Homo sapiens: one gene and its partners. The protein of the gene in region 2 purifies or fractionates together with the protein of the main gene of each other region. This does not show direct contact. Each region holds a gene or a part of one and is shown on either strand. Other genes may lie near its edges.

Region 1 (4,802 bases), on a different chromosome or scaffold from region 2:
CATAGTCTAAATCACTCATAGACAATATATAAATGAATGGGCATGGCTATGCTTTAATAAAACTTTATGGACAGTGAAATTTGAATTTCATGTAATTTTTATGTGTCATGAAATATTTTTCTTTTGATTTTTTTTCTCCAATTATTTAGCCATTATTAGCTTGCAGCCCATAAAAATAGGTAACAGGGCAGATGTGAGCTGCATGTCTTAGTTTGCCTGCCTTGGTCTAGGACCAGAGTTTGAGGTGTACTGGGCCTGCAGATAAGAAGCTCTGAGGCTGGGCACAGTGGCTCATACCTGAATCCCAATACTTTAGGAGGCCGAGGCAGGCGGAACACCTGAGGTCAGGAGTTCGAGACCAGCCTGGCCAACATGGCAAAACCCTGTATCTACTAAAAACACAAAAAAATTAGCCAAGCGTTGTGGCATGTGTGTGTAATCCTCGCTACTTGGGAGGCTGAGGCACAAGAATTGGTTGAACCCAGGAGCTGGAGGTTGCAGTGAACTGAAATGGTGCCACTGCATTCCAGCCTGGGCAACAGAGCGAGACTCTGTCTCAAGAAAAAAAAAAAAAAGTTCTGAAATCACTATAGCTCTTTAGGGTGTCATCTCTGATTTGGGAGGAAGCAGGAAATTCTCCAGGGTCCTTGTCCTTAGTGAGCACTGAGCAGTGATGGCACCAAAAGCTAGCAGAGCCCAGCTTCTTCTCTGGATCAGCCAGTGCTATGCCTCAGGGCAAAAGCCAGCCAAGTACAGACTTACTTTTCTCGGCTCCAGTCTTTCCAGATCTCAGCCCAGTAACTCCATACTGCCTTGGCCATTTGATGCTTTTAGGAAGTTTTTGGGTTTTTTTAGCCAGCTTTTTAAATTGTCTTCATCAAGAAGGTTTGTCTAGATTACTTATTCTGCCAATACTGTTCCATATGTTTTTTATTTTTTTGAGATAGAGTTTCATTCTTGTCGCCCAGGCTGGAGTGCAATGGTGTGATCTCAGCTCACTGCAACCTCTGCCCCGCGGGTTCAAGCGATTCTCCTGCCTCAGCCTCCTGAGTAGCTGGGATTACAGGTGCCTGCCACCACGATCAGCTAGTTTTTGTATTTTTAGTAGAGATGGGGTTTCACCATATTGGCTAGGCTGGTCTCAAACTCCTGACCTCAAGTGATCCGGCCGCCTTGCCTCCCAAAGTGCTGGGATTATAGGCATAAGCCACCGCGCCCAGCCCATATGTTTTATATTTAGCTGGTTATTTTTTTTTTGTTGTATTTTTTAGATCCCTGGGTTCAGAGAGAGATATGTGGAGTTGAGGAAGAGAGCTGAAAAGTATAAAGTTTTAGACATATTTAGCCTTGCAAATGGAGACAATAGCATAAATAAGTTAAATATGATATCTCTAACTCATGCTTTGTTTTTTGACTTTGTCTTTCATTTTATAAGAACAAGTACGTAAATGGAAAAACTGACAGATTCATTTTGACCAATCACTTACTGAAGGCATATGTGAAACATTAATGAAGCAATTTACTAATGAGAAAATTCAGATAATGATTAATTTTGGGGGATTCAGGAGTATCTATAAGGAGGATGTTAAAAATGTGTTCCTCTGAACTAAAATCAAATAAAAAGGACGAAATTTACAAGTGTGTGTATTTAACACTAATTTCAGTTGTGTAACCTTAGGCAGTCCTCGTTGGCAGACCAACTTTTGTTTAACTAGATCATAAACTTAATGTGTGATGCAGGGGACTGGTTATATGCCCTGCCCCTACACTCCAACTCCCTTCCCCTCCCAGTTTTCACCTCAAGAGTGGCCTTATACCTGCTCCGTACACAGTTGGAAGTAAAACTGCTTAGGGCTAAGTGTTATCTCTAAGTGACCATGGAAGAATTATGGACATTTTTTTACCTCCTGGAAATCATATACAAACTGCCACTTTCTTTTCATGGCATCTTTTCCCCCTACATTACTTAACGTTCCCTTAGATTTCCTCCCAAAATCTGTGCAGTCTTGTAAACAACATCCTTTGTAATTTTCTTCTGATTCTTATCTAGTTATCTCAAATTACTCTCCATCTGCTAATTTTGTCCATGAGTCAAAACAAATCACCTAATCATGACGCTTAAGTAAAGCTACATTTACTAAATATCTATGGTTTGACAAGCATTGTTGTGTTTGTTTATGGTAAACCTGTCAAGGAGTAAAACAGCTGAGCATTTTGTAGTGAAATTAGGTGTGGTAGAAAATAGTATCACAATTCATACTTGGGTGCTGCTCAGGAGACACTTGAGTTTAATGAGCTCCTGATATGATCTGCCTTGGGACTGTTGATGCTTTTGTTGGATTACGTGTGTGCATGTCTTAGAGCTACAAAATAATACCTTGAAAAATTGCCAACTTCATTCAAAGCTCTTTGCAATGCTAAGAGTTTCCCTCAGAATTTCTCTACAAGTTCTTGTTTACCTCATTATTTAAAGCACTTTATTTTGTTGTAGGTTTTGGGGAGTTAGGTTGAGCAAATATCTAACATTCTAATGGAAAAATATTTTTTAAGTTCCATATGAATGTCCTAAAAGTGGCTTTCACAGCACAAATGTTCTATGACCTTCTATGATAGCAGTCGTTCATCACACTGACTGATGTTTAGTTGATTAATTTTCTCATAGTCACAACAGAAGTTGATTTTAATATGACTTGCATGAAAAATGATAAATTTTTACTGCTTTTTTTGTGAAGCTATAATATTGGGCATCTGTAATGTCTTCAGTTTTCAGAATCAAGCCATATTCTGATCTTTTATATCTACTAATGACACCCAAATTTAGAACTGTGTGCTCTGGCTATGTAGAAAAGACTGATTGAAAAAGAAAAGAAAAGACTGCTTTCCTGTGTCTCTGTAGCTCCTCAACTTTTTTTTTAATGTGCTCCTCTTTAAAATTTTTTCTTTCAGGTTGTACCTACAACAGATCATATAGATACAGAAAAATTGAAAGCCAGAGAACAGATTAAGTTTTTTGAAGAAGTTCTCCTTTTTGAGGATGAACTTCATGATCATGGAGTTTCAAGCCTGAGTGTGAAGATTGTGAGTATTATTTTTATTTAAAATTAATATTTTTCTTGCATTCTTAACATCAGACAAAAATATGACTCACTTTGAATAACACTGAGCCTGGCCGGGCGCGGTGGCTCACGCCTGTAATCCCAGCACTTTGAGAGGCTGAGGCGGGCTGGATCGCCAGGTCAGGAGACCGAGACCATCCTGGCTAACACAGTGAAACCCCGTCTCTACTAAAAACACAAAAAGTTAGCTGGGCATGGTGGCGGGCGCCTGTAGTCCCAGCTACTCGGGAGGCTGAGGCAGGAGAGTAGCGTGAACCCAAGAGGCGGAGCTTGCAGTGAGCCAGGATCACGCCACTGCACTCCAGCCTGGGCGACAGAGCAAAAAAAAAAAAAAAAAAAAAAGAATAACACTGAGCTTTAACATGATGTCATGTACAATTTCACTTGAATCTAGAGTGTATCTTATTGAATATCCATTATAAAATTCACAAAATATTTGTGTATTCTTAAGGCTTTATTTTAGCAAAGCATTTTTAATAGACCTGCCTGGCCACCTTGTAGTTTATTTGTTTATTATTTAACTCTAATGAAGACTGTGGCTTAATTTTCACATTTTGGATTAAAAATGATGTTGATAGGATCTGCAGACGGCAAGGTGGATGTCATTTTTTAAAATGATCCATGTGTTATGATTTCAGTGCATCATTCAACTACCACTTCAATTTTCAGCCTGGTGGCGGGCACCTGTAGTCCCAGCTACTCGGGAGGCTGAGGCAGGAGAAGCGTGAACCCGGGAGGCGGAGCTTGCAGTGAGCTGAGATCGCACCACTGCACTCCAGCCCTCCAGCCTGGGCGACAGAGCAAGACTCCGTCTCAAAAAAAAAAAATAAAATAAAATAAAAGAAGTAGAAAACACACATAACAAGTATGGTTATTCATATTTCTTTACCACTGCATTATAATTGGGTCTCTAATACTTTCCAGAAATAACTCAACTGAAACTTTTTACTAAATGCCTCATTCTTTAAGACCCAAAGACCCAGCTAAAATACCACCTTTTCTACAAGGCCCTTCACAACTCCGTTACACAGAGTTAAATATCTCTTTTCTATACTCCTTTTTAAAAACCTCTCAATTAGGCCGGGCGCGGTGGCCCATGCCTGTAATCCCAGCACTTTGGGAGGCCGAGGCGGGCGGATCACGAGGTCAGGAGATCGAGACCATGGTGAAACCCCGTCTCTACTAAAAATACAAAAAATTAGCTGGGCGCAGTGGCGGGCGCCTGTAGTCCCAGCTACCCGGGAGGCTGAGGCAGGAGAATGGCGTGAACCCGGAAGGCAGAGCTTGCAGTGAGCCGAGATCGTGCCACTGCACTCCAGCCTGGGCAACAAGCGAGACTCCGTCTCAAAACAAACAAACAAACAAACAAAACAAACAAAAAACCTCTCAATTATAGCATTTGTCATGAGATCTGTCAAAGACAGAGACCCTAACATCAAACATTGTTCTTGGGGCATAATGATTGTGGATGCTGTGATTTAAAGAATGAAAATAATACAAAAGCAGCAACAGATTTGTTTTAAAGTCAAATTTTAGCTACTTGGGAGGCAGAAGCAGGAGGATTGCTTGAGCCCAGGAGGTCAAGGCTACAGTGAGCTATGATGGTGCCACTGCACCCCAGCTTGGGAGACAAAATAATTTTATTTTTAGATAAATAAAAAATTTTATTTTTCTTATCTAAAAATA
Region 2 (4,802 bases):
GCGTGCAAAGTGCAGGTGAAAGCAGTTGTATTGCTTTGGGGATTCAGTGAGCTATAGTGGCTCTTAGCACAGTGTTTGGTACTTAGCAAGTGCTCAGCAAATGGCAATAGCTGCTGAAGTGACAGTGTCATCACATGTTAACATCCCTATGATGGGTCGTGTGGGAGTAATCACTGTTTTTCTTTGATTCTGCTTAGGGCAAGCAAGCTCCACATATGCGGAACAAACTGGAAAGCTGACCGAATTTGTGTCTAACCTGGCGTGGGATTTCGCAGTCAAAGAAGGGTTCCGGGTTTTCAAAGAGATGCCCTTCACAAATCCGTTAACAAGGTCCTACCACACGTGGGCCAGGCCCCAGTCCCAGTGGTGCCCCACAGGCAGCAGGAGTTATAGCTCCGTTCCAGAAGCTTCCCCAGCTCATACCTCAAGGGGAGGTCTGGTTATCTCTCCAGAGAGCCTCTCTCCACCTGTCAGAGAGCTGTATCACCGGCTGAAGCACTTCATGGAGCAACGTGTGTACCCTGCAGAGCCAGAGCTGCAGAGTCACCAGGCCTCAGCAGCCAGGTGGAGCCCCTCCCCACTGATCGAAGACCTCAAGGTAAAGCAGCCATGGTGAGGTGGTAAGACCCCAATACCATGGCATACCCTCCCCGACCCCACCGGGCTCACCTGAACCATCCCAGGCAGTGAAGATACAGGAGCTCCGAGTTGAATGATCTTTGCTTCCATCGTCTCAGAAAGAGCCAGCTCTTCATGACTCAGTTTCCATCTCTTGCTCTTGCTGTGCCTGTGTCACAGGCAGATGGCTCAGGTGTGACTGCACAGCCCAGGCAGTGGAATGCTTGGCCTTAGAAAGCCAGGGCAGGTTAGGCCTATCTGATGGGTATTTGAATTATGTAAATTTGAAACAGTGCTGTATCAGCTAATAAATCTCTCTCTAGAGAACCCGTAATATCACAGCTAGAGGGCCAGATCCACTGTGAGCTGAGTTTCTGTGTTGTCTCCCAGTGCTGTCACTTCAGCTGATAAACAGAAACACCCGCTGTTCCTTATCACGTGAACCTTGGATTGTGTTAGTTTTGAAATTACTTGAGATCTTCAGGAGCATAATGCAATCATCATCTACTTTTCTTTTTTTCTCTTTTTTTTTGAGACGGAGTCTTGCTCTGTGCAACTTCCGCCTCCCAGGTTCAAGCGATTCTCCTGCCTCAGCCTCCCGAGTAACTGGGATTATAGGCACGTGCCACCATGCCCAGCTAATTTTTGTATTTTTAATGGAGATGGAGTTTCACCATGTTGTTCAGGCTGGTCTTGAACTCCTGACTTTGTGATCCGCCCGCCTCGGCCTCCCAAAGTGCTGGGATTACAGGCGTGAGCCACCATCTCTCTCTTTTTTTTTTTTTTTTTTTTTTTTGAGACAGGGTCTCGCTTTGTCACCCAGGGTGGAATGCAGTGGTGTGGTCATAGCTCACTGCAGTCTCAACCTCCTGGGCTCATGTGATCCTCCCACTTCAGCCTCCTGTGTAGCTGGGACCACAGGCACAGCCACCATGCCCAGCTCCTCATATCATTTTTTTGGGCACACGTGCATGTTTGGTTGTCTGCCTTGTTTCCTCCAATCCCTTTCATTGTTTTCCACGGTTCAAAATAAAATGAAATCTTCCACTGTGGTTTCCTGACTTATTTTCCCCATGATAGGAGAAAGCCAAAGCTGAAGGACTTTGGAACCTTTTCCTACCCTTAGAGGCTGATCCCGAGAAAAAATACGGAGCAGGACTGACCAATGTGGAATATGCACATCTGTGTGAGCTCATGGGCACGTCCCTGTATGCCCCCGAGGTACCTTCTTTAAAGTTTTCCTCAGTGTGTGGGAACATCCTGATCTTCATAAGAACTCAATCCTAAACAGATAAACCAGATTCAGAAGCACTGGCATGAACTTGAACTTTTTTTTTTTTTTGAGATGGAGTCTCGCTCTGTCACCCAGGCTGGAGTGTAGTGGCGAAATCTTGGCGCACTGCAACCCCTGCCTCCTGGGTTCAAGTGGTTCTCCTGCCTCAGCTTCCCAAGTAGCTGGGACTACAGGCATGTGCCACCACACCTGGCTAATTTTTGTATTTTTAGTAGATACAGGGTTTTACCATGTTGGCCAGACTGGTCTCAAACTCCTGACCTCAGGTGATCCACCTACCCTGGCCCCACAAAGTGCTGGGATTACAGGCGTGAGCCACCATGCCCATCCAATTTGAAGCTTGAAATATTAATGTGAGAAGGCCAGGCATGGTGGCTCACACCTGTAATCCCGGTACTTTTGGAGGCCGAAGTGTGGGGGATCACTTGAGGCCAGGAGTTCGACACCAGCGTGTGCAACATAGAACTCTGTATGTACAAAAAAATAAAAAATTAATCGGGTGTGATGGTGCATACCTGTAGTCTCAGCTGCTTGGGAAGCTGAGGCATGGGAGGATGGCTTGAGCTGAGGAAGTCGAGGCTGCAGTGAGCCATGATCGTGCCACGATACTCCAGCCTGGGTGACAGAGCTTGACTCTGTTTTTTTTAGAAGAGGACATGACAGTCATGGTCACGCTCCTTTTCCTTCTCAGGTATGTAACTGCTCTGCGCCTGACACGGGCAACATGGAGCTGCTGGTGAGGTATGGCACCGAAGCGCAGAAGGCTCGCTGGCTGATTCCTCTGCTGGAGGGGAAAGCCCGCTCCTGTTTTGCTATGACCGAGCCCCAGGTACGTCGCCTGGGCTGCCACCCACTTGCCTGGCCCTGTTGTTGTCGGCCCCACAGGGAACACGGGCTGTCTGCTGGCGTCTCTGACTGGAATATGCTCCCCACTCAGGTTGCCTCTTCAGATGCCACCAACATTGAGGCTTCCATCAGAGAGGAGGACAGCTTCTATGTCATAAACGGTCACAAATGGTGGATCACAGGTATTTGGCCTAAAATGCACTTTCCAAATGCACATCAGGGAGTCTGTGCTGTTAGGCGCGTCTCTCAATGCCTGGGAGGAGCCTCTGCTTTTTCAAGTTGACACAAAGGAGATTCTGTCACTTAGCGCCCCCAGCAGAGGCAGCTGGGAGAATAGGAGGGTAATCCGTGGAGCACACTGTTCTCAGAGGTGGCACTTCACAGGGCAGGGACGTCCCCCGGTGCCCACACATGGACGGATGCCTCCCTGCACATGTGACCCCAGGAATCTCTCCACTTCCTGCTGTTCATTCTGCTTTGGGCAGCTCCCCTTCCTTGGTGGCTTCCTGGCTCCTCGATCAGGTGTGTTACATCCTAAGGGCTAATGACAATCCTGACTTTTAGGGATTGTCCAGTGTTACTTTTGCAGGGCCCCTACAAGTAGCCGTGGAGCTTACCTCCCGGAGCCCATACCTCCCTGGACATTAAGAATGAGCATCCCCATTTTGCAAAGGAGGAAACCGCACTCAGACTTAGGTCCCTTGCCTGGGGTATGAGCCCCCAGCCAGCAAGTAGAGAACCCAGAGTCAAAGGTTCACCTGATTCCAAGGCCCGGGCCCAGAGCCGTTATGTGTGCACCACCTGTGGGAGCCGAGCCAGCTGGCAGGGATCAAGTAGCGGTTTTCATCCTCTTGTCTCTAAATTATATTTTCTACTCTATGTGATGCTTTTAAAAACTTGCTCTTATGATGTTGGATTCATTCCTCACTGGGACAAAACCCAATTTGCTCTTATTTCTGGTCAGCAGTCTGCAGATGCTCATCTGATTACATGGAGCCTTAAAGAGCTCTGTCTGCTTCCTTACTGTGCCTTTCTTGGGCCAGGACCACGTGTGTAGAGATTTGATGGCCCTGGTGTCAGATGATGGGGTCTGTCTCTCTCCTTTCCTGGCAGGCATCCTGGATCCTCGTTGCCAACTCTGTGTGTTTATGGGAAAAACAGACCCACATGCACCAAGACACCGGCAGCAGTCTGTGCTCTTGGTTCCCATGGATACCCCAGGGATAAAAATCATCCGGCCTCTGACGGTGTATGGACTGGAAGATGCACCAGGTGAGACCTCCAGGGGCGGGTCACCCCTGGGTGTGGGTCTGGTCCCCAGGAAACACCACTGAGGGGCCCCTGCTCTTGTTCAGGACTTGCCACATCCCACGTCTGAGGGTATGATGACATTTGGAGTCACATGCTCCTGCATTTCATTTCCATACATGAATATCAACCATGCAGGCGGATTTCAGACAGGCATTTATGGATTTTTTTCCCTCTTCTAAACTTAGAAAGTAATCAGGAGTCTGTGACACAGGAAGCCATACAGGGCAGACGCAGGAAGTGGACCCCAAACCTACTCTTCCAGGCCCCAGTGTGAACAGCTGACCTCTAGGCCACAGCCCTGGTTTGGTCCGCTCCCAGTTTGGTTCTCTGCTAATAGTGTTCACATTTTTACTTTCAGTGTTTTCATAGGATCACTACATTGTCACAAACCACTAGGAGCTTCAGCTTAAGGTGGCATTATTATGTTTTTATAAAAGGAATCACAGAATAGTCATTTGCCATTATAAATCAGTGATTCATTTTCTGTGTTTAACAGGCTGTTTCCTGCCGTCCTTTTCCCTTTAACCATGTCCCAGTAAGAAGGCTAAATAAAGGGCAGGGACATTGCCAGCAGATAACCCAGACTGAGGTGAGGAATAAACACATCCAAGGAAAATGACTATGGCTATTGCTCACAGTGATCGTTTGGGTCTTTCAGGTGGCCATGGTGAAGTCCGATTTGAGCACGTGCGTGTGCCCAAAGAGAACATGGTCCTGGGCCCTGGCCGAGGCT
Region 3 (4,802 bases), on a different chromosome or scaffold from region 2:
CAAATGTTTTCTTCATTGTTGCCTGAAAAAAGAAAAGAATGTGTGGAAGCACAACTCGTATCTATCTCCAAGCCTGAATCCACTTGATTTGGCCAAAAGCAAGTAATAGAAAGATTGCTCCAAAAATGGAGATACTTAACAACATGCGAATTTTTAACATCCGAAGCCTCTGTACCTAACTGTGCCATATTGCCTGTGTTCATCATCAAGATATAGGGCATTAGGTAAATAAGGTTATCTACCACCAGGGATTCTCCAGCTATGTACTATAATTTTGACAAAGCTTTTTAAAAACAAATTGCAATGGGGCTCTTTTTGTTCCAGTTTTTCAGGAAGAATGTTCTTAGTAGATAAAATTTTAAGTTTTCTTATTATAGGTTTTTTTTTTTAAACCTATGGCCTACAATTAGATGTCTGTACCAATGTAGCATAACATAGTGTATTTAGAGGAGACAGCATGGCATGGAGGATAATAGTTCCAGCTCAGGATTCAGACTGACCGAATTCAAGTGTTGACTGCCCCTTGTTAGTTGAGGCACTTGGTTTGACTTACTTAGCTTCAGACACTTAGCACAGTACTTTGAACCTGGTACGTTTTCAGTAAAAGTTTAACTGTTACTTAAGTTCTTATTTTTTAGTTTAACATTAATACTTAATGGTATTTCACATGATGATTTCTAAGTATTCCACTGCTTCAAGAAGTCTGAGAAATAGGGATAATTATTGATAAGTATGTCAGTTATTTTCAAGTTAATTTACATTAGCTTCTTTGCATTCTTTATCTGGATGTATTATTGAGTTAAAATATCCTCATTAAATCTGTTCTTCGAGTCCACATCATGGAGCCACCTGGTGGAAAGCTGGCTCATCACAAGGTCCTGTGAATAGCTAGCAGACAGACTTGCCTTGTACTGTAGGCTCTGGTATATACAGCTTGTAAGGTGAGGCTGAAAAGGCAGATGATGTAACCTTCTGGAAGTTGTGTTTACTGGAATGATTTTACCTAAGAAAAAATAATTCTTAATTTATAGACTGTGTTATGGACAGAGCATAACCTCTGTGTCTTTTTTTTTAGAAATTTCCCCCTTGCTTTGGATCTTGGTTGTGGAAGAGGTTACATTGCACAATATTTGAATAAGGTATATTTATTCAATGACCTAATTTACTTTGAAAAGTAACATTGGCTAATTTTAAAGAAAGACTTTCCTAATCAGTTTAGCTTGCAACATATTTAGATTTTAATTATATCAGAATTGTTAATTTGTTTTTTTTTTTAAGTGGTAGAATCAATGGTGGTTTTCTCCCTTCTTTAGAATTTTTTTCTTAAAGGGTTTTTCTCTGAATCCATTATATATTATGTTTCTACCGATAATTTATTTGAATCTATAGAAGATATATTTCTCTTTGTTCACATTTTTTTATAATTACCATAAAAATCAGATTGGCATTCATACAGAAAATGTGACTTTTAGCTAGAAAAATATTAATTTTATCAGTTGATTAGAAATCTTTCTGTATCATTAAATATAAGTAGCTTTATTAATGCTTATAACATTGTATTTTGCACTTTATAATTCAGACCATGAAGACATTAATTTATTCTTTTAGCTCCTATCTATACGATATTGTGCTGGACACAAAGATGAAAGTGGAATTTCTTTTTTTTTCTGAGATGGAGTCTCACTCTGTTGCCCAGGCTGGAGTACAGTGGCACGATCTCGGCTCACTGCAACCTCTGCCTCCCGGGTTTGAACGATTCTCCTGCCGCAGCCTCCCAAGTAGCTGGGATTATGGGGGTGCACCACTATGCCCTGCTAATTTTTGTATTTTTGGTAGAGATGGGGTTTCACCATGTTGGCAAGGCCGGTCTTGAACTCCTGCCCTCAGGTGATCCGCCTGTCTCGGCATCCCAAAGCGCTGGGATGACAGGCGTGAGCTACTGCGCCCAGCCTTAAAGTGGAATTTCTTTTTTTTTTTTTTGAGACAGAGTCTCGCTCTGTTGCCCAGGCTGGAGTGCAGTGGTGCAATCTCAGCTCACTGCAAGCTTTGCCTTCCAGGTTCATGCCATTCTCCTGCCTCAGCCTCCCGAGTACCTGGGTCTACAGGTGCCCGCCACCACGCCTGGCTAATTTTTTGTATTTTTTAGTAGAGACGGGGTTTCACCGTGTTAGCCAGGATGGTCTTGATCTCCTGACCTCATGATCTGTCCGCCTTGGCCTCCCAAAGTGCTGGGATTACAGGCGTGAGCCACCATGCCCAGCCTCATAAAGTGGAATTTCTACGTAAAATCTGCTTAGATAAAACCATAGACTTGGGCCAGGGTGAGGAAGGGAGTGGTGGGGCTCCTAAAACACTATTATTGGTAATAGTAAATGCCATAGAAATGGTGCAGTCATTAAAGTGCAACAGGAATTAGGGGAAAAGAAAAAATCAGTAGGAGTTCATGTGGTCAAGGATTCTCAGGGGGCACAGAATCTGACCTGGGATTTGAAAGAATTTGAGTTGGTGGTTCCTAGCATTGGAAATCAGGGCATGGCAGGAGGAAAGGCACAGAGGTAGAATGCTGTAGGGTGTGATATAGTGATGTTTAAGGAAGATTAATCTGGGGATGGCATTCGAGAAAGATTGAAGAAGAGAAAGGGTAGAGAAACCCATCAGAAGGCTGTGTTAAAGGCATTGCAGGCATGAGAAATAAAGGCCTGCCACCCATGCAGAGCCAGCACATATAAATGATGGGATGTATGAGAGAGACCTGGAAGTATCAACAGAACTTGATGACTGATCAGATATGGTAGGCAGAGCAAATCTATTCTTTTAGTAACTCAACGCCAAAAAACATTTTTATTGATTCCTCTTATATCCTTCTCTCCCACATCTAATCCGTCAGCAGCTTTTATTTGCATTTCAAAATATAACCAAACTCTTATGTCTTCTTGCCACCTTCCCCATCACCGTGCTGTTCAGCTATCATCGCCCCTTGCCTAGATTATTGCAGTAGCCTCCTATTGGTCTCCCTGCTTTACCTTTGTCCCTGACAGTCTGTTGTCATGGCAAAGTATCCTCGTAAAACACAAATCAAATCATTGTCAGTCCTCTGCCCAGAACTGTTAGTTTGTCATCTAGTTTAGTAGTAATCCAGAGTCCTAATCTATAAGACCCTCAGGATTCTGTTTTTTTATCATGTCTCTGATCCCATCTTCTTCCTTTCACTCCCAACTTTTCAGCAACCCTGGCCTCCTTGCAGTCTCTCAAACAGGCCAGAGCTTTGCTCTATGCTCTTCCCCAAGGTATCTGTGTGTCTTAGTTGCTCACCTGTCAGATCTTTACTCAGCTGACTTCATCAAAGATTCCTCCCGTGACTGCTTTAGAAAATAGTGCCCCTGCTTTCTGCCGACTAGTTGCTTTATTTGCTTCCATAGCACTTACAAGCTCCTGATGTATGTTTATTTGGTGTCTTTCTTCTCTTACTGGATTTGCTCATTTTTGATCACTACTAAATCCTAGTACCTAAATCACAATGAGTATTTATTAAATGACTATTGCAAGATAACTTTAGAGTTTAAGTTACACCTTTTGTGACTGGAAAATTCAGGGGATGTGATGTGGCAAGGAGCACGGGATCATTCCTGTTTTAGATATGTTGAGTTTGAGATGGCAGTGGAATATGGTAGTATAAATAGCTGGCAGGTAGTTGGAAATGTGGAACTGGAATTGGGATATTGAGGTTAAGAGCATTGACTTGAAGTCAGGGCTTCAAACTTCAGCTCTGCCACTGTCTGTGTATACTCAGACCTTGGGCCAATCAATTGCTCTAGACCTCAGTTTCTATAAAATATGATCAATAATACCCATCTCAAAAGGTTGGTAAGGGGATTAAGTGAGGCAAAGTAAACCTGTCAAAGGAGGCTATAGTTCTTATTTGGAAGTCCCTTTCAGAAGTGACAATTGAAGCCGTAGAAATAGGTAAACTCTCTGAGGCAAGAATATAGAAAAGAACCTTCTGCAATTGTACTTAGGGTTGGGAGAAAGAGGAAGAGCCAATAAAGATGCCAGGAATAGTAAGATGGAAAGTGTCTTAGTAAGGTATCTTTTGATTGTTGAAAGCAAAAATGTGCTGAAGCCAGTTTAAACACAGAGACATTTGTTACAGAGAGGCTCTTATGTAACTCAGGGATCCAGAAATAGAGCCAGGCCTCACAAGAGATGGGAACTTTGAAACACCATAACAATGTTCCTCCTGTTCGCATGCACTCTGGTACTACATGAATGCTGTCTGGTTGCCTTCATTCTTTTTACTCCCTGTAGTCTATCCATAGTAGTGTTCATCAGTGTGTGTGGCCCCATATGAATATGCTACACCCAAGGGTAGCTGAAGCTAGCTTAGGCCAGCCTGTGAGAGCCAATTGTTAGCATCTCTTCCCAACCTCTGTTCTGTGACATCATATTGATAGCTTGACATCAGCCCTGGTGGGAATATTTATACCATGGAAGTTGGCAAATGCTACAAAGCAGTCCCCAACCAAGAGCCAGCACACCACTGCCTATACCCTGAAGTCTAAATGTTCTTCCAACTCCAGGGACCTCTGCTATTATCTCGAAGTCTCTTAGTTCAAATTTTCAAGTGAGAGACAGGGATAGATAATCCTGTCCATCTAATTCTTCACCCCTCACAGGAGTGTGCTGGAGCTGGCTCATGAGAGCTATTGAGCACTCTTCCCAGCTCCATATTTAGCAACATCATGTTGGTAGCATGAAATCTTTCCAAGTTTCAGACAGGGAAGTGGGTGTGGGTAAAGTAAAAA
Region 4 (4,802 bases), on a different chromosome or scaffold from region 2:
ATGGTATTAAATGCGTTCATCACGTTGTGCAGTTGTCACCACCATCTGTATCCAAACTCTTCATTTTAAAACTGGAACTCTATACCCATTAAATAGTAACTCTTGATTCCCATTCTTAGCCCCTTGGCAATCACTTTTTGTCTCTATGATTTTGACTACTCTCAATACCTCATATAAGTAGAATCACACAGTGTTTATCTTTGCATGGCTAGCGTAATGTCCCCAAGTTTCATCCATGTTGTAGCATGTTGAAGAATTTTCTTGCTTTTTAAGGCTGAATAATATCCATTGCGTGTGTGTGTTGAGAAGCTAACCATCTACAGCAGATTATTTACGTGAAATACACGTAATAACTCTGGGTTTTAAACAACTGATTCAGATATGAACTTACAGAAAATAAAATGTTTGTATGTTGGTCGGGGGGTGCCTGTATTGAAAAATCTTGACCACAATAGTTAAACTTTACTGAGTCATCACAAGTTTATAGTATATTGAAAATTCTTGCAGGTTTTAATGCTGACACTGCAGAACGATCCTCCTTCTTTGGAAACTGGTGTTCAAGATAAAGAAATGCTGAAAAAATATGGAAAATCATTTAGAAAAATGATTTCATTGTGCCTTCAAAAAGATCCAGAAAAAAGGTAAAATATGAGAAAAAGTCTACTTTTCTCTCTAATAAAACATTGTGAGAAGTCTAAGAATCACATACTCATATGTACAGGAAATTATTTTCAAAAGAACTAAATATAAACTTTAAAAAAGTATACAGAGACCATTATACTGGATTGGAAATGAATTGATTTCTGCCTTCTTTGTAGTATACAGTGTACCCTAAATAGTTCAGCTTTTTCCTTGTTAATTTCTTACAAAGTTGTACATTGTGAATTCTGTATTAATAAATGCCAAGTTAGTGGAGAGATTTGTTTTTAATTTGCATTTAAAATTTATAAATGAATGTCTTAATGCCATTTACAGTATTAATAAAGGAAAGACACATAGAAAATTTATATTTAGTGTAATAATCATACTTATTTCCATGTTAGAAAGATATTTTAGTAAGTGGACCAAAAATTCAAATAGCTTCCTTATCAATGTTAGACAGATTGAATGACAAGTGAGCAAATAAATAAGAACATCCGATATGTGTAACTTCATGAATTAAGCAGAATCGTAGAATGTTGGGGATCATTGAGTACAACCTTTTATTTTTGAGGTCACTTGATACTTAGTCATAGGAGTAGGACTTGAATCTCAAAGTCCTGATTCCTAACTTAGGGCTCTGTTCCTTCTGAATCTTATCTGTCTGTTTCACATATATATTCCACTCAGCTTCTTAGCACTGAGTTCTTTAATTTTTGTTTCTCTAAAGATCATTAAAAGGGAAAGACTTTGATGTTCTTGATCACATCTCTAGTGTATGTAATAGGGTTTCAGAATTTATTGTTGGAAATATTGGAAAGGGTAAGAAAAACAGGTAGCAAAATTTATACCTGTGTTTTTATAATTTTTTTTTTTCTGTTTCTGAGTAAACAGTTAAAAAAGACAGGAAACACTTTTCTTTTATCAAATTAGTTGGTTAAAGGAACAAAATTATCCTGTTACAAATACCTAGAAATGCCAGATAAAATCTATCCAACTTAAAGATTCTCAGATGCCAGAAATAATGAGGAAGCCCTAAGTTAAAGAAGAAATATTGTGAACTAATCCCATGGCTGTTTTCAGTGGGTCACTATTCATTCTGGTAACCTACTGATTTGGATTTATAACTCCCATGTGAAAACTGGAAGTGAGATCTTGGGTCCACCCAGTGGGGAGTTTGAACTGAGATTCTTCTTAAAGCTAAGAACTTCAGATGTCAGTATCCTTAGTAAAAGGATAGACAAGAATAAAAATTGTCATCACCAAGAGACAACAAAAACCTCTCCTGAATAATCAAGCCCTTCAACCTGGACATTCCACAGGTTTAGAGTCTATACTCCCTATGTTATCCAGGAACCCACAGGATTAGAAAGTTAAAAAAGCTTTACCAAATCAGTTTTTATTTTTGACGGAAGTAGTCACAGAGCTGCACTGGAAGAACACTTTCAAACTCTAGCTCCCATTGGATTCCTGAACATAATGCCCCACTGTAATAAGGTCACAATCCAAAATTAAGAAACACACAGTGAAACAATGCATTATGAACTAGTTAGCAGACACAAGCAGAAGGATTAGTGCTCCAGAAGATTTAGGTAATGCAGTGAAAATCTGAAAAGATACAAAATTAAGTATATTGAAAATAATTAAAATTAGAAGAAATCAGACCCACAAGAGAAGACTGTGACTATGACAGAAGAACCAAATAGCAATGCCAGAAATGAAAAATACAGTGATTAATGTTTAAAACTTTCCATGAGTGTGAGCTGGACTTGTTGACTCACTTCTGATGAGTAGAGTATGAAAAAGGAAAAATAGCAACTTTACAATGCACCTCCTCTACCCAATGACCAAGGTTAACATCACTATTAATAATACATTGATAAGACTGATATGTGCCTCTTGATATGGTGCAATGAGAAGGGCATATATATAACCTGTGAGGTATTCTTCCTCCAAATCCGTAACTTCGGTCTATAATGAGAAAACATCAGACAAACCCAAATCGAGGAATATGCAGCAAGATACCTGACCAGCACTCTTCAAAACTGTCAAGGAAGAGAGACTAAGAAACTGTCACAGATTGGAGGAAATTAAGAAGACGTGAAGACGGAAAGCAAGAGTATCCTATACTAGATCCTGGGACAGAAAAAGGACATTAGTGGAAAAACTGGAGAAATGGAATGAAGTCTGTAGTTTAGTTAATAGTATTGTACCAGTGTTGATATTTTAGTTGATTTCTTTATTATTATACTGTGGTTATGTAAAAGGTTCACAATAGCAGAAGGTGGTGAATGGCATGTAGGAACTCTGTACTAGCTTTGCAGCTCTTCTGTAAGTCTAAAATTATTATAAAACTTTAAGAAAACTGGAAGCTATAGAAAATCTATTCCAGTTTGTAAACCAAAATTAAACTTTGTTTAGAACATTGCTAAGTTAAAATAACACGCACAATGGACTGGTTAAACAGAACAACCAATAAAACAAAAAAGAGATTATTTACTCATCAAGTACCAGGCACTGTGGTAAACACTTAACATATATTGTTTAATTCTCACAGTAATCCTTTGAGGATAGCACTGTTATTTTCTTTATTTTACAAATGAAGAAACTGAATCACAGAGAGGTTAAGTAACCTTCTCCAAAGTCACACAGCTAATAAATGGTGGAATCAGAATTCTGACCCATGCAATTGGACTAGAGTTAACCTGTTTTAATCAGACTACACTATACTGAGGAAATTGCTCAGAATGTGGCACAGAAAGATCAAAGAGGGAATATGAAAGAAATATTAACATTTGGAGGGTAGACTGAGAAGGTTCAGTATGTTTGTGTGTATGCACATCCACACACACACACACACACACACACACACACACACACACACAAATGTACGTATACATATACATGAACTTACCAGGAAAGACTAGAGAGAGTATAGGAGAAGCGATATTCAAAGAAATAATGGCTGAGAATTTTCGAGAGTTGATGAAAGACCTATATTCTCAGAGTAAAGAACCATCCCCCCAGAATTCCAAGCAGTGTCCCCCTTCTTCCACTTGTACAAGTTGCTGTGAAACTACTGGACACGAAGCAAAGACAAACTCCTACAGGCAACCTCGGGGAACAGATTACCTACTGAGGATTAGCAGGTAGACTTGACAGCTACTTCCCCAATAACACAACAGTTGAGGCCAGCGTTTAGTGAAATGCTCAGAGAAAATGCAGTCATGTGTCACTTAAAATGATGAGGATACATTCTGTAATATGTGTATTAGGCAGTTTTGTCATTGTTTGAACATCGTGGAGTGTACTTACACAAACTTTGATGGTACAGCCTACTGCATGCCTAGGCTATTTAGTGTAGCCTGTTGCTCTGACTACTGTCAGATACACAGTATATTGTTGGCCAAAGCATTAAGAGGCTCATGACTGTGACTTTAACCCAGAGTTCTCCAGCTAGTCAGACTATCATTCAAGAATGAGCATGAAATTATTTTGCACACAGAAATTGAGTTTTCCAGTCACGTTCTGTCACTTAAAGAACCCATAAGTTGTACTTTAGAAAGAAGGAAATGAAGTCAGAAGAAAGGAATGAATAATAAGAAGCAATGTTGAGCAATCACATTGTTGAGCATATTGAGAAGCAATTGTTGAGCATATGAAAAAATAAGAGTGATAATGTAGGATTTCAGTTTGCATAGCACTTTCACATTTATTCAGCTTTTTAATCTTTATAATAATCATCTGAGGTGCTGGTTCTTAAACTTGAATGCCTATTGGAATTACCTGGGGAGTTTTAAACATTACTAAAGCCAATTAAAGATTCTGCTTTAATTGGTTTGAGGTACAGCCTGGTCATTGGTTTTGTTTGTTCGTTTGTTTGTTTTTGAGACAGTCTTGCTTTGTCGCCCAGGCTGGAGTACAGTGGCACAATCTTGGCTCACTGCAACCTCCGCCTCATGGGTTCAAGCAATTCTCCTGCCTCAGCCTCCCAAGTAGCTGGGACTACAGGCGCACGCCACCATGCCCTGCTAATTTTTGTGGTTTTTTTAGCAGAGACTGGGTGTCACCATATTGGCCAGGCTGGTCTTGAACTCCTGATATCGTGATCCACCCACTTTGGCCTCCCAAAGTTCTGGGATTACAAGCATGAGCCATGGTGC

Evidence for each region.
Region 1: the proteins of ACAD10 (region 2) and TIPRL fractionate together in Homo sapiens (co-fractionation; one large-scale study listed by BioGRID). This does not show direct contact.
Region 3: the proteins of ACAD10 (region 2) and NDUFAF5 purify together in Homo sapiens (co-immunoprecipitation; one large-scale study listed by IntAct). This does not show direct contact.
Region 4: the proteins of ACAD10 (region 2) and OXSR1 fractionate together in Homo sapiens (co-fractionation; one large-scale study listed by BioGRID). This does not show direct contact.

What each region holds. Positions count from the first base shown.
Region 1 is NC_000001.11:168,188,423-168,193,224, forward strand, and holds part of TIPRL (TIP41-like protein), read left to right. Parts: intron 1-2,946; coding exon 2,947-3,078; intron 3,079-3,785; coding exon of another isoform or gene 3,786-3,806; exon of another isoform or gene 3,807-3,973; intron 3,974-4,802. UniProt on the Homo sapiens protein: May be a allosteric regulator of serine/threonine-protein phosphatase 2A (PP2A). Isoform 1 inhibits catalytic activity of the PP2A(D) core complex in vitro. The PP2A(C):TIPRL complex does not show phosphatase activity.
Region 2 is NC_000012.12:111,744,446-111,749,247, forward strand, and holds part of ACAD10 (acyl-CoA dehydrogenase family member 10), read left to right. Parts: intron 1-197; coding exon 198-598; intron 599-1,698; coding exon 1,699-1,839; intron 1,840-2,603; coding exon 2,604-2,741; intron 2,742-2,849; coding exon 2,850-2,940; intron 2,941-3,871; coding exon 3,872-4,030; intron 4,031-4,727; coding exon 4,728-4,802.
Region 3 is NC_000020.11:13,787,514-13,792,315, forward strand, and holds part of NDUFAF5 (arginine-hydroxylase NDUFAF5, mitochondrial), read left to right. Parts: intron 1-1,075; coding exon 1,076-1,139; intron 1,140-4,802. UniProt on the Homo sapiens protein: Arginine hydroxylase that mediates hydroxylation of 'Arg-111' of NDUFS7 and is involved in the assembly of mitochondrial NADH:ubiquinone oxidoreductase complex (complex I, MT-ND1) at early stages. May also have methyltransferase activity.
Region 4 is NC_000003.12:38,224,064-38,228,865, forward strand, and holds part of OXSR1 (serine/threonine-protein kinase OSR1), read left to right. Parts: intron 1-507; coding exon 508-641; intron 642-4,802. UniProt on the Homo sapiens protein: Effector serine/threonine-protein kinase component of the WNK-SPAK/OSR1 kinase cascade, which is involved in various processes, such as ion transport, response to hypertonic stress and blood pressure.